Homo sapiens: one gene and its partners. The protein of the gene in region 2 purifies or fractionates together with the protein of the main gene of each other region. This does not show direct contact. Each region holds a gene or a part of one and is shown on either strand. Other genes may lie near its edges.

The links.
Region 1: the proteins of TUBGCP4 (region 2) and SYNRG purify together in Homo sapiens (affinity purification with mass spectrometry; one large-scale study listed by BioGRID and IntAct). This does not show direct contact.
Region 3: the proteins of TUBGCP4 (region 2) and SPTLC1 purify together in Homo sapiens (affinity purification with mass spectrometry; one large-scale study listed by BioGRID and IntAct). This does not show direct contact.

What each region holds. Positions count from the first base shown.
Region 1 is NC_000017.11:37,550,403-37,554,056, forward strand, and holds part of SYNRG (synergin gamma), read right to left. Parts: coding exon 2,713-3,654; intron 1-2,712. UniProt on the Homo sapiens protein: Plays a role in endocytosis and/or membrane trafficking at the trans-Golgi network (TGN). May act by linking the adapter protein complex AP-1 to other proteins. Component of clathrin-coated vesicles.
Region 2 is NC_000015.10:43,381,014-43,384,667, reverse strand, and holds part of TUBGCP4 (gamma-tubulin complex component 4), read right to left. Parts: intron 1,366-3,654; coding exon 1,164-1,365; intron 1-1,163. UniProt on the Homo sapiens protein: Component of the gamma-tubulin ring complex (gTuRC) which mediates microtubule nucleation.
Region 3 is NC_000009.12:92,045,874-92,049,527, reverse strand, and holds part of SPTLC1 (serine palmitoyltransferase 1), read left to right. Parts: intron 1-1,819; coding exon 1,820-1,915; intron 1,916-2,259; coding exon 2,260-2,356; intron 2,357-3,474; coding exon 3,475-3,529; intron 3,530-3,654. UniProt on the Homo sapiens protein: Component of the serine palmitoyltransferase multisubunit enzyme (SPT) that catalyzes the initial and rate-limiting step in sphingolipid biosynthesis by condensing L-serine and activated acyl-CoA (most commonly palmitoyl-CoA) to form long-chain bases.

The DNA of each region.
Region 1 (3,654 bases), on a different chromosome or scaffold from region 2:
CCTCTAGTCTTAGGATACTATTGCTTTAAACTTGGTATCAGCCAGGTATTTCTTTGGTCTAACCCTGAAAAAGTACAAATTACACACATCCCCACACTTTCAAAATATGCCAAAGAATTATTTATTAACACAAGACTTACAGATCACAAAAGAGAGTGATACAGAAGAGCTGGAAAAGAAGTCATCAGAATAAGCATGCAGATCAGTATTTGCAGAGGAATATACTAAAGTAAATTTGAAGGCACATTCACACAGAAAATGTCTAAATTGAAAAAAAGACATCAGAAAAGCAGCCAAAAAAAAAAAAAGGTGCTAATTAAAATACAAAGATTTTCAATGTCAAAGAAGAGCTACTTTACAGATAGGTAGGTAGGTAGCTACAGAAGTCTTGCTAACCCTTTGAAAATGTCACAGATGAGGGTCAGCTCTTGCTGCCAATAAAACCATATGATTTTAATGACTGCACGTCAAGATGCTTCAGTGCCGCAGATTAAATTTAGTCAGGGGGAAAAAACAGCCTAGTTGAAATTATATGCAGCAAGGCCTCAAAGGGTTAAATGTAATAATACGCAGAGAAATCAGGCAATGTTATCAGTATTATCTACCTTCCATACAAATGATTATAGCAAGAGTTAAAAGAGACAGTATCCCCTTCAGAGTTAAGTTAGGGCTTCTAAACAGGATTAAGGTCCGCAGATAGCAATCTACCAGGTTTTATTCTCTCTTCATCAGCTCACTTCTTATTTCTCCAACAAGAAGTACCTTTAACCCTCAAACTAAGAGAGCAAGAGATACTGTGGTGAACATGAGGATAAAATAAAACTACATTACTTTGAATAAGTCCTTGCCATTTACCCTCTACAATACATTGATGCAGCAATTTTGCACAACAGCAATATAGCGCATTGGTCAGACATCAACCCCTTTTAACAACCGCTCTAAAGGGATACTGCTCCTTTCTGACAGGAGGTTTACAGATCAATGGGAGGAAACAATCTGCTTTTAAGAATATCCTCCAACTGAAGAGTTAGCTTGAACATTACAGGCTCCAAGCTGAGGATGTTCCAAACATACATAAAAGAACATGAGCACAGAAGATTATTTTAACAGGTCAGTAAGAACAAGCTTGGTCAAAAAAACCAACCTCCAAATAAAATGGGGGAAAAAAAAAGACACCCCAAACCCGGATTAGCCTCATTTCATAAAGACATCTACCTTGGCACTGTGAAAGAATATAGATTCACTTTCAGAAAAATAGTTTCTAATTAATAACTTCAGAGTCCAAAAGGCTAGTATACATGTTATGAGATTTTTAAATAAAAATCCAATATTGTTCAGAAAACAGAGCACTTTGCAACCAACTGCTGTGGTTCAAGCAGCTCATAAAAAAAAAAAACCAACAAAACAAAACCCACAATCACTCTATCAAACAAACAGCAGCAAAAAAATAAGAAAATTTCTGAGGAAAAGTACAAAAAAAAAAAAAAAGACAGAAAGTAGACAGTCAAGGGCACAGGAGCTCTTCAGACCGCCCACTGCATTTGAAAAATACCTTAGCAAGTAGCAACATGAAACATGCAATGTCTCTGCTAACTTGCTCCTGATTCAGCAGCCTGTTTAGCAATACCTACAACATTTCCATAACCAAAGGATGGATGCAATTTTGTTTTCCGACTTGCCAATTTGACATATGCAAAAGCTATAGGACTTTACAATTTCTGCCTGAATCTGTAAACTTGGAAGTGTCTCACGTGTCCCCCCTAGTTAGACAAAACCAAATCCTTCATATGCATAATACATTTTCTAGAATAATACAGTGATACTGAGATATTTCTCATTATTAAAAGGCCACAAAATAGGTTTATCTTTCTATATACATATCAAAAAACAAAACAAAAGAAAAACCAGGACACTTGGGAATCTAGTTTTTATGACAGAAGTTGAACTAGAGAGTAAATTGCTACATGTAAATCTACACAGAATTTAAAGAGGGCTCCCTAATAAGATGTTTTCAAACATTTTATCAGAAAGTTAGCAGTTACCCTATCCTAGCATCTACAGATTTGTTACAACTTAATATTTCCAGTAATAGAGTTAACACTGAAAACAGCTCCTGGATTCCACTGACAACACACACCCTCCTCTTTGCCAGGCCCTGACATACAGAACATTCATATATAAACTCTTTCCCTCTTCTTCTCTTAAAAGGATGTGGCAAACTGCACTACAAGTGGTTAGAAATTTTTACTTTCTTGACCTAACAAGAGTTAATTTCTGTAAATCAAACAGAATACTATACTGGCAGTTGCTGTGTATACCCAAGAGAAGAAAAAAGGAGAGGGAAACACTGATTTTACTCACAGAAATGAAGGAACACTGCCGGCACTGCAAAGGTCTTTATCAAATTTCTGGCAATGTGAGGTTCACTTAGCAGTGACTTTTTATGTGCCTCTAACACCAAGCTGGTGCTAGATTTCAAAAATAAAAATATCTTAGCTACCCAATCTAAGTTCCACAGTAGCCATAGTATCCATATCAAGTATCCATAGAATCAAATTTAACACTGCTTTAAGGAGACTGGCAATAAAGAGGTTGATTATTAGAGATTCATAAAGCTAAAGGGCCAGAGCCTTACTCATGTAAATCAACACCCGCAGAATCATCTTTGAAATCTACAACACCATCACCAGAGCAATCTCACCAATTCCTCACCTGCAGCAGGAGGATGCTGGCCACTAACTGTTGGTAAATCCAAAGAGCTATCAGACATGACATGCTTAAGATCTCCTCCCACATCAGCCAATTTCATGTCAAACTGAACAGAGAGTGCATCTTCAGAGTCCTCCTTGCCAACACTGCTGCCACCAATGGAAGGGAGATCTAAGGACTTCACTGATGCAGAGTCTTCTTTGGTGTGTCTGAAAGCCACTGCTTTCTCTCCCAGGGATTTGTCCGAGTTTATGGAAGAAAATTTACTGGAGTGGAAGTCAGCAAAATCATCATCACTTTTTCCTGAAGGAGTGTTATCTTTCAGGTCTTCAACACCTAGTCCAGACCCTTCCAGAGAAAGTTGTCTGAAGACATCGTACTTGGTAGACGCAGCAGTCGAGTTTTGTCCACCCTTCACTGTGCTGCCCACGTTGCTGGTTAGAGGAACAGGACTGGCTTCCTCTTTAAGGGCATCATATTTGTCATCCGGCTTTTGCTCAGATGAAATAGAGCTATTACTGAAAGCCATAAAATCTGCAAAGTCATCCTGCTCCCCAACAGGTGCTAGACCAGAATATTCCCCAAAAAGGCTGAATTCTCCAAAATCATCAGCCAAACTAGAAGTTTTTGTTGCTGCCAATGCTGTCATAGTAGCAGCAGAACCTGTTGACTGTGGTGTAGAAACTGATTTTGATGTGCTAAACACAGCTGAAAAAGACAATGGTTTCTCGCTGCTGCAATTAACTGAGGAAAACATATCTAGGTCTGCTAAGTTCAGAGGGTTTTTCACTTGTGTTTGTTGTTTCTGTTGTATAGTTCCTGAGGGGAAGGATGGTGGAAAAGTTTTGTCTTTTGTTGGTGGCTCTAGTGGTGATACACTATCGGCTGTTTTAAAATCGGTGAAACCATCATCAGTTCCTGCAGATCTGAATTCTGCAAAGCTTT
Region 2 (3,654 bases):
CTGCTTAACTCAAGTTTCATCAAGTACCAACTTACACAGTTTCAAGTACCACCTCTCCCTCACACCATCTCTTGTAACATTTTACTTCAGCCTTTATTTGATCATTTCAATTGAATTACTACTGTTTCCCCAAATGAACCATGTCCTTAATGGCCCCTGTACCTTTACACATATCATTCCTTCTGCCTGGATGTCTCTTGATGGCTCCTCCCAAACTCTTTGCAATTTAGACATACCTTCCACTGAAAAGCCTTCCCTAGTCACTCCAAGACCCTATCCCATGACCATGTTCCAAGAATACCCATATTTAGTCTTTTCAGAGCCCTTAGCACACTGTAATGTAACTGTTTACTTTTCTATATCTCTTCCCCTAAACTATGAGCTCCTTAGGGACAGACACTACTACTTTTTATTTGTAGCACCTAGAACAATGCCTAGCACATAACAGGCATTCAATGAAATATTGCCACAGGATAAATGAATGAATGGATGGATGGATGAATGGATGAATATGGACAATGTAGAACTTTGAGGAGTCTAATCAAAACACCAAACTGGCCAGGCACGGTGGCTCATGCCTGTAATCCCAACACTTACAGGCCGAGGCGGGTGGATCACCTGAGGTCAGGCGTTCGAGACCAGCCTGGCCAACATGACAAAACCCTGTCTCTACTAAAAATATGAAAATAAAAAATATGAAAATTAGCTAGGCATGGTGGCACATGCCTGGTTCCAGGTACTTGGGAGGCTAAGGCAGGAGAATTGCTTGAACCTGGGAGGCAGTGGCTGCAGTGAGCCAAGATTGCGCCATCGCACTCCAGCCTGGGCGATGGGTGAGAATCTGTCTTTAAAAAAAAAAACAAAACTCCAAACTGTATTTAAAATCTAAAATGTAGCTAGCTGCTCCATTAGAGTAGCTACATAAGTAAGACTTATAATCTCTCAAATGCATATATTGGGAAAGAGGAAACAAAAAGAATATCACAAACATATTTTCTATTTTATAGTCTCACACTAGTTAAGATAAAGCCGAATGTTTACATCGAAAGGATTGATGGAAGGTGCTCAGCTATGAGCTAAGAAGGGATCACCAGAAGATCATTTGTGTGCATGCTTTTCTGACTCCTGGCAGGAGAGTGCTAGGCTACTTTTTGGGCTCTCACCAAGTCCTGCAGTTCTCTCAGTTGTTTTCCTGTCAGTCCCCCAATGCCCAGATCCTCCTCGTCCTCTTCTGGCTGGGCACTGACATTACCAGAAGATGGCCCCTGTTTGATAAAGAATTCTTCATGCTGGTCCAAGAGGAGTCCATGGAGCATCCAGGCTGAGAGCTGTTTATACATGACCCCATGACAAACGGCCAGGATTCTGGGCAGAGTAGAAAGTAAGAGGCTCAGAAGTCATGCTTTAAACTGTTACAGGATAAACAGAGGCCTGAGAATTTGATGAGTCATAACAGAAATAACCAATTAAGTTAAAAATAATTGTGCTATTTTAATTTAAATGTGGGTGAACTAACTCACTGAATTTCCATATTTGCAGCCTACACAATGAAATCTAAAATGTTCAGTATATGTGCTGATATTATTTTAGGGAAGACATTTTCTTCCCTTCTTTTATGTAATTTTCAAAACTGATGGGTCCTAAATATGTACAACTGTTTTATAGCAATAAAAAATAAAAATAATAAAAAATTTTAAAAATCGACTTAATGGAGTCTCTTTTTGGCTAACACAGTATTAAATTTGTTTTATTTTTGTTGGAATCACTTAGGGAGAGAATATTCAATACGTGAGTGCCAGGTATACATGAAAAACCATTATCTAGCAAAATTCAGAAACTAAAACAAAATGCAGAATGGTTGTTGGGGAATAGGATATTCAGATGGTCTCAAAGGATCACCCACCAGATAGCATATTAATTAAAAAGGGGAAAATGTACCTCTATAATGGAGCAGGACGTGATGAAAACACCTAAGCCAAGTGATCCAACTTCATAACATCCGTGATGGGATAAAGTTACTTTCTGTACCTTCTAATATGATGTAATGGGAAATAATATCACCTACATAGTATTCTTGCCAAAAAATGTTTAATCTGAATCTAATCATAGGGAAACAATAAATCCAGATTGTGAAACATTATACAGGACAGCTGGTCAGGACTCTTAAAATGTCAGCGTCATCCAAAACACCAAGAACAACAAAAGGCAAGGGGGACGGTTCTAAATTAAAGGAGACTAAAAAGACATGAGAACAAAATGTAGTATGTGAACACTGATCGGATCCTGGATTGCAAAAAAAGAACAGCTATGAAGGAATTCTGAGGGACAACTAGAAAAATTTGGATATAGTATTACTGAATTAATGTTAACTTTCTTGGGTGTAATATGGAATTGATGTTCTATAAGAGAATCCCTTTTTCTTTTATTTTTCTTTTTTTCTTTTTTCTTTTTTTTTTGAGACAGGGTCTCACTCTGTTGCCCAGGCTGGAGTGCTGTAGCACGATCATGGCTCACTGCAGTTTCGACCTCCTGGACTCAAGCCACCCTCCCACCTCAGCCTCCTAAGTAGCTGGGCCCACAGGCGCACACAGCATGCCTACTTTTTTTGTATTTGTAGAGACGGGGTCTCACTATGTTGCCTGGGCTGGTCTCCTAGGCTCAAGCTATCCACCCACCTTGGCCTCTCAAAGTGCTAGGAATACAGGTGTGTGCCACCATGCCCAGCCAAGAATGCCTTTTTTCTAAAGTGATACAAGCTGAAGTATTTAAGTGTTAGGGTATCTGTGACTACTTTCAAATGACTCTGCAAAAAAATTTGTGCATTTCACATATACGTATAGAAGGAGAAAAAGAGAAATCAAACGTGGCAAATGTTAACAAATGGTGAAACTAAAGGATACACTAGCGTTTGGTTGGTTTTTTTTGTTTTTTGTTTTGAGACAGGGTCTCATTCTGTCATCCAGGCTGGATTACAGTGGCGAGATCTCAGCTCACTGCAGCATCAACCTCCTGGGCTAAAGCAATCCTTCTGCCTCAGCTTCCCGTAGCTGGGACTACAGGCAGGCACCACACCTGGCTAATTTTTTTATTTTTGGTACAGACAGGGTCTCGCTATGTTGCCCAGGCTGGTCTCGAACTCCTGGGCTCAAGCGATCCCTCTGCCTCAGCCTTCCAAAGTGCTGGGATTACAAGCGTGAGCCACCGAGCCCAGCCTACAAGTGTTTTATTATACGTTTCTTTCAACTTTTTTGTAGGTTTAAAATTTTTCAAAATAAAAGGTTGGGAGAAAAAGAAATTACAAGAACTTGACTGTGTTATTTAACTGAATGGAATCTCTCTTTAAAAAGATCAAATGTGAAGCTATTTACATTTATGCATTTCTGAGTATGTGGTCTGTAAAGTTTGGTCCCTGCAAACACAGAACAAACATGTATATATAGTATCATCTACATTAGATTTTATATTCTATACACAAAAGTATAATAGAGAATTAAGTCCCTAAGGAATGTTCTGGAGGATTTACTCATGCAGTGGTTAGAGTGGAGATTAAGAGTTGTGAGTGGCCGGGTGCGGTGGCTCACACCTGTAATCTCAACACTTTGGGAGGCCAAGATGTGAATATCGGTTGAGCCTAGGAGTTCGAGACCAGCCTGG
Region 3 (3,654 bases), on a different chromosome or scaffold from region 2:
TACAGTTACGCGTGCGTGCGTGTGTGTGTGCATGTGTGTGTGTGTCAGAAACACCACTGGCATGCATTCAGCAAAACCTCTTAAAGTCCCAAACAGAATGAGGTGTCATGTTTCCTTTTCTGAGGGAAATGGACCCAGACTGCCCGCAGTGCCTAGTGGGTTTTGCTCCTGGAGCCTCAGGGCAGAGGAAGTCAGCCAGTCTTGAACAGCTGTCTTACCAACCACCATGGGAAGAGTTACAGAAAGCTTTTTCTCCAAAACATGCGCATAAGAGCTGTGCAACCTGTGTTACAGAGTTGAACTATAAAACGTAAAATTGCCTTACATTATCGACATCCCGCTAACCATATAGTCCCAGAGAAAAATGTAAAGCAGAGTGAATATCCCGGGAGGTTGGATGGAAGCACCTCCTCCAAGGCAGACTGACATTCAGCAGTTACATGCACCGAGGAGGTAAATGGAATAAATGGAAAGATAAATGGAAGTGTAATTCAAGCAGATTTAGCAGTACACTACAGCCTTTTTTAAGGCATGAAAATTTTTATGGAGGAAAAAACTTGAACTTCACTGTTGTAGTTTTGTGAATGCTTCCAGCAGTTGTCACTTTGGGAAATACTGTGAGGAAATACTCACAAGCGCCTGAGAGTAGAGAGCAGAATGTACGGGCTTTATTTGGATCCTGATTCAAACAAATGCTGTTAAAAGAAAATTTGGTGAGACAATCAGAGATATCTGAACACTGAATATTTGAATATATTTAACATCAAATTTAAACTTAACATTTAAAAATTGTTAATGTCTTAAGTATGATACTAGTTTTGTGATTATGTTTTGAGAGAGTTTTTATCTTTTAGAAATACACAGTGCAATGTTTATAGATGAAACCCCATGAAGTCTGGGACTCACTACAAAGAAATGATGAGGGTGGTAGGGGATATAGGTGAAGCAAGGTTGTCCTTGAGTTGATAATGTTTGAATCTGGGTGATGGGGATTCTTTGTTCTGTTCTACTTTGTTCAGGCTTGAAATTTTTCATAATGAAAGGTTTAAACATGCTTTTTAAAAAGGGCAGGAGTGCAGAGTTTCTCAAAACTCTGCTGGATCTATGAAACACTAAGGAAAACACTAGCTGTGTTCTGACAATCCATTAACATGGCCATCAGTAAGTAATGATTGAATGCCTACTGTGTGCCCAGAATGGAACTTGGTGCTGAGGGCTGGACCCAAAGATGAGGACCGAAGGAGTTCTGAGTGGTCAGAAAGATGTAGGACTCAAAGCCCATTAGGTCATTTTAGAGCACATTAGGTTCTTCTGCTGTCCAGTTGGTCAAAGATTCCATCGCCATGACGTTTGGATAAATTGACTTATGAAATGCTGAGAGGCAAACTGAATACAAGAATAAAGTGCTCAAAACTTCGATAGACTTTTTATTTATCTCAGTGCATCCCATGAGGAAGGCCAGCTAGACCACTGTTTTAGCGAGGAAATAGTCTTATTTTGTACCTGTGACTACTTTTAATATCGAACAGCTTTGGGTTTTATTTTCTTATAATTTATTTGTCTTTGCTGTGAGTTAATTTGTCATGTATAATGAAATGGTAAAAATGTATAAAATGAGACAGTTTCAGATGGGCCATGAGACTACAGTTCATTCAGCGATAGATGTTATATGGTTTATTTTTTATTTTCATGTAGATAGGTAGTTTGAATCCAGATATTAACAGACAGTTTAATGCTGTTAAATTTTGTCTCTAGGCTTGAAGTTGGCCTTTTTTTTCTTTAAACTGTGGAATAACTGTCACTCCTCCTTTTCCGGCAGATTGATGATATTGATCTTATCAGTGCCAACATGGAGAATGCACTTGCTTCTATTGGAGGTTTCTGCTGTGGCAGGTCTTTTGTAATTGACCATCAGGTGGGTTCTTTTTAAAAACAGGAGCTAAAACTGAAACTAATTTCTCCATTGGTCACCTCAAAATATAATTTTGAAATACGAAATTTTACTTAGTTTATCACACAATTTTTATTTAAATGTCAATTTTTAAAGAATCACTCAAAATATTTCTATTTAGAAATGATCTCACATTTAACAAAAAGTCTTGTTGCTGTTACACGTATAATGTTTATTTATGGCTGGATCTTACCCCCCTCACCACATGTACACACTGTTCAGTAGTTGTTCTAGAGAACTGGTGCCTTTCAAATGTTTACCTAGAAAGGACAGAGAATGTGTATATGTCTTCATTTGTTTCTTCTCAGCGACTTTCCGGCCAGGGATACTGCTTTTCAGCTTCGTTACCTCCCCTGTTAGCTGCTGCAGCAATTGAGGCCCTCAACATCATGGAAGAGAATCCAGGTATAACCCTTTAAAAACCCAAGGAATCAAAGAGATTTCAGGTTACGTTAGTTGTGTTACTGATTTACTTACTGGAGAAATTATTTGCCAGACAAAACTGGTTTGCAGTTACATTATATGGCATTCATAGGAAGAATGGCAGTGAAGAAGCTATTCCTGCCCCAAGGACTTGGGGTCAGAGCTTTTCTCCTGTGCTTGGGGCCAGAGCCAGAGCCAAAGCAAGGCTAGCTCAGATAGTGGGTGGAGATGCTGGGAGGACGAGGGGCTCTCAGCCAGTTCTGGGCCTAAACGTTCCATTGGTGTAAATAAGCCAGTCTTTATTTGGTTAATAGTTTTTTGAGAAATCAGCTGAAGCATGCTGCTTTTTTATCTGTGCAATTTTATAAATATTGTGAGTTTTCACCTTTAGCCTTTGAATCATCAGTTGGTACTGAGGCCAAGCCGGGTTTACCAGCAAAGAACTTACTCAGTGGGAAAAATAAAAAGTCTACTAAGAATTTAAAATGTGGCCTTTGGCTATGACAGTGCCACCTTTGCAAAGCTTAAAACGGAAAGGGAGCAGCAGGCCCTACCCGGTACAGTATTTCTGAATCTTCATCACTGATACTAATTCAGAGAACCAGAAAATGTGTGTCTCTGTGCTCATTCATATGCTTGCTTCTCAGATGGCCTGGCACGCCTACCTTCTGATCAGATACTTTAGTTTTGGGATTTTCCTTGAATAAAAAAGGAAAATATCAAGAAAAGATTGTAAAAATTACTTTACTATAGTTGATTTTTTACCAAATTGTTTAGGATAAAGAAATAAGCAATAAATTTGTACCCTTTGATTCTTAGCCAGATTAGGATCTTGATGAGAACAAGAGGCATTGATTGTTCTTGAAAGCATCATTCCAGGTTTGTTGAAAGTGGGATACTGAGGTGAGAAGGGGCCAGTTAGCACGCACCAGAGACAAAGCTTGGGCCTTCAGGGGAGTATGGGTTCTTGGCTCTGTTAGTATGTAGAAGGATTTGTAGCATTTTAAATTGATGAACTTGATCTGGGTCTTCAAAAATATTTTTAGGTTAGTACTATCATAAGTTTCAAATAGACTCTCAAACGTATTTTTTTCATCTAGGTATTTTTGCAGTGTTGAAGGAAAAGTGCGGACAAATTCATAAAGCTTTACAAGGGTGAGTTTTATATATTTTCAACCAACATAAAGTTTATCTGCACCACACTTAACAACTAATGGAAAGTTTTAAATTTCTAGGCTTGGGTCAGTTTGACCAGATTGCAGCTAAGAAACCAAAAACTT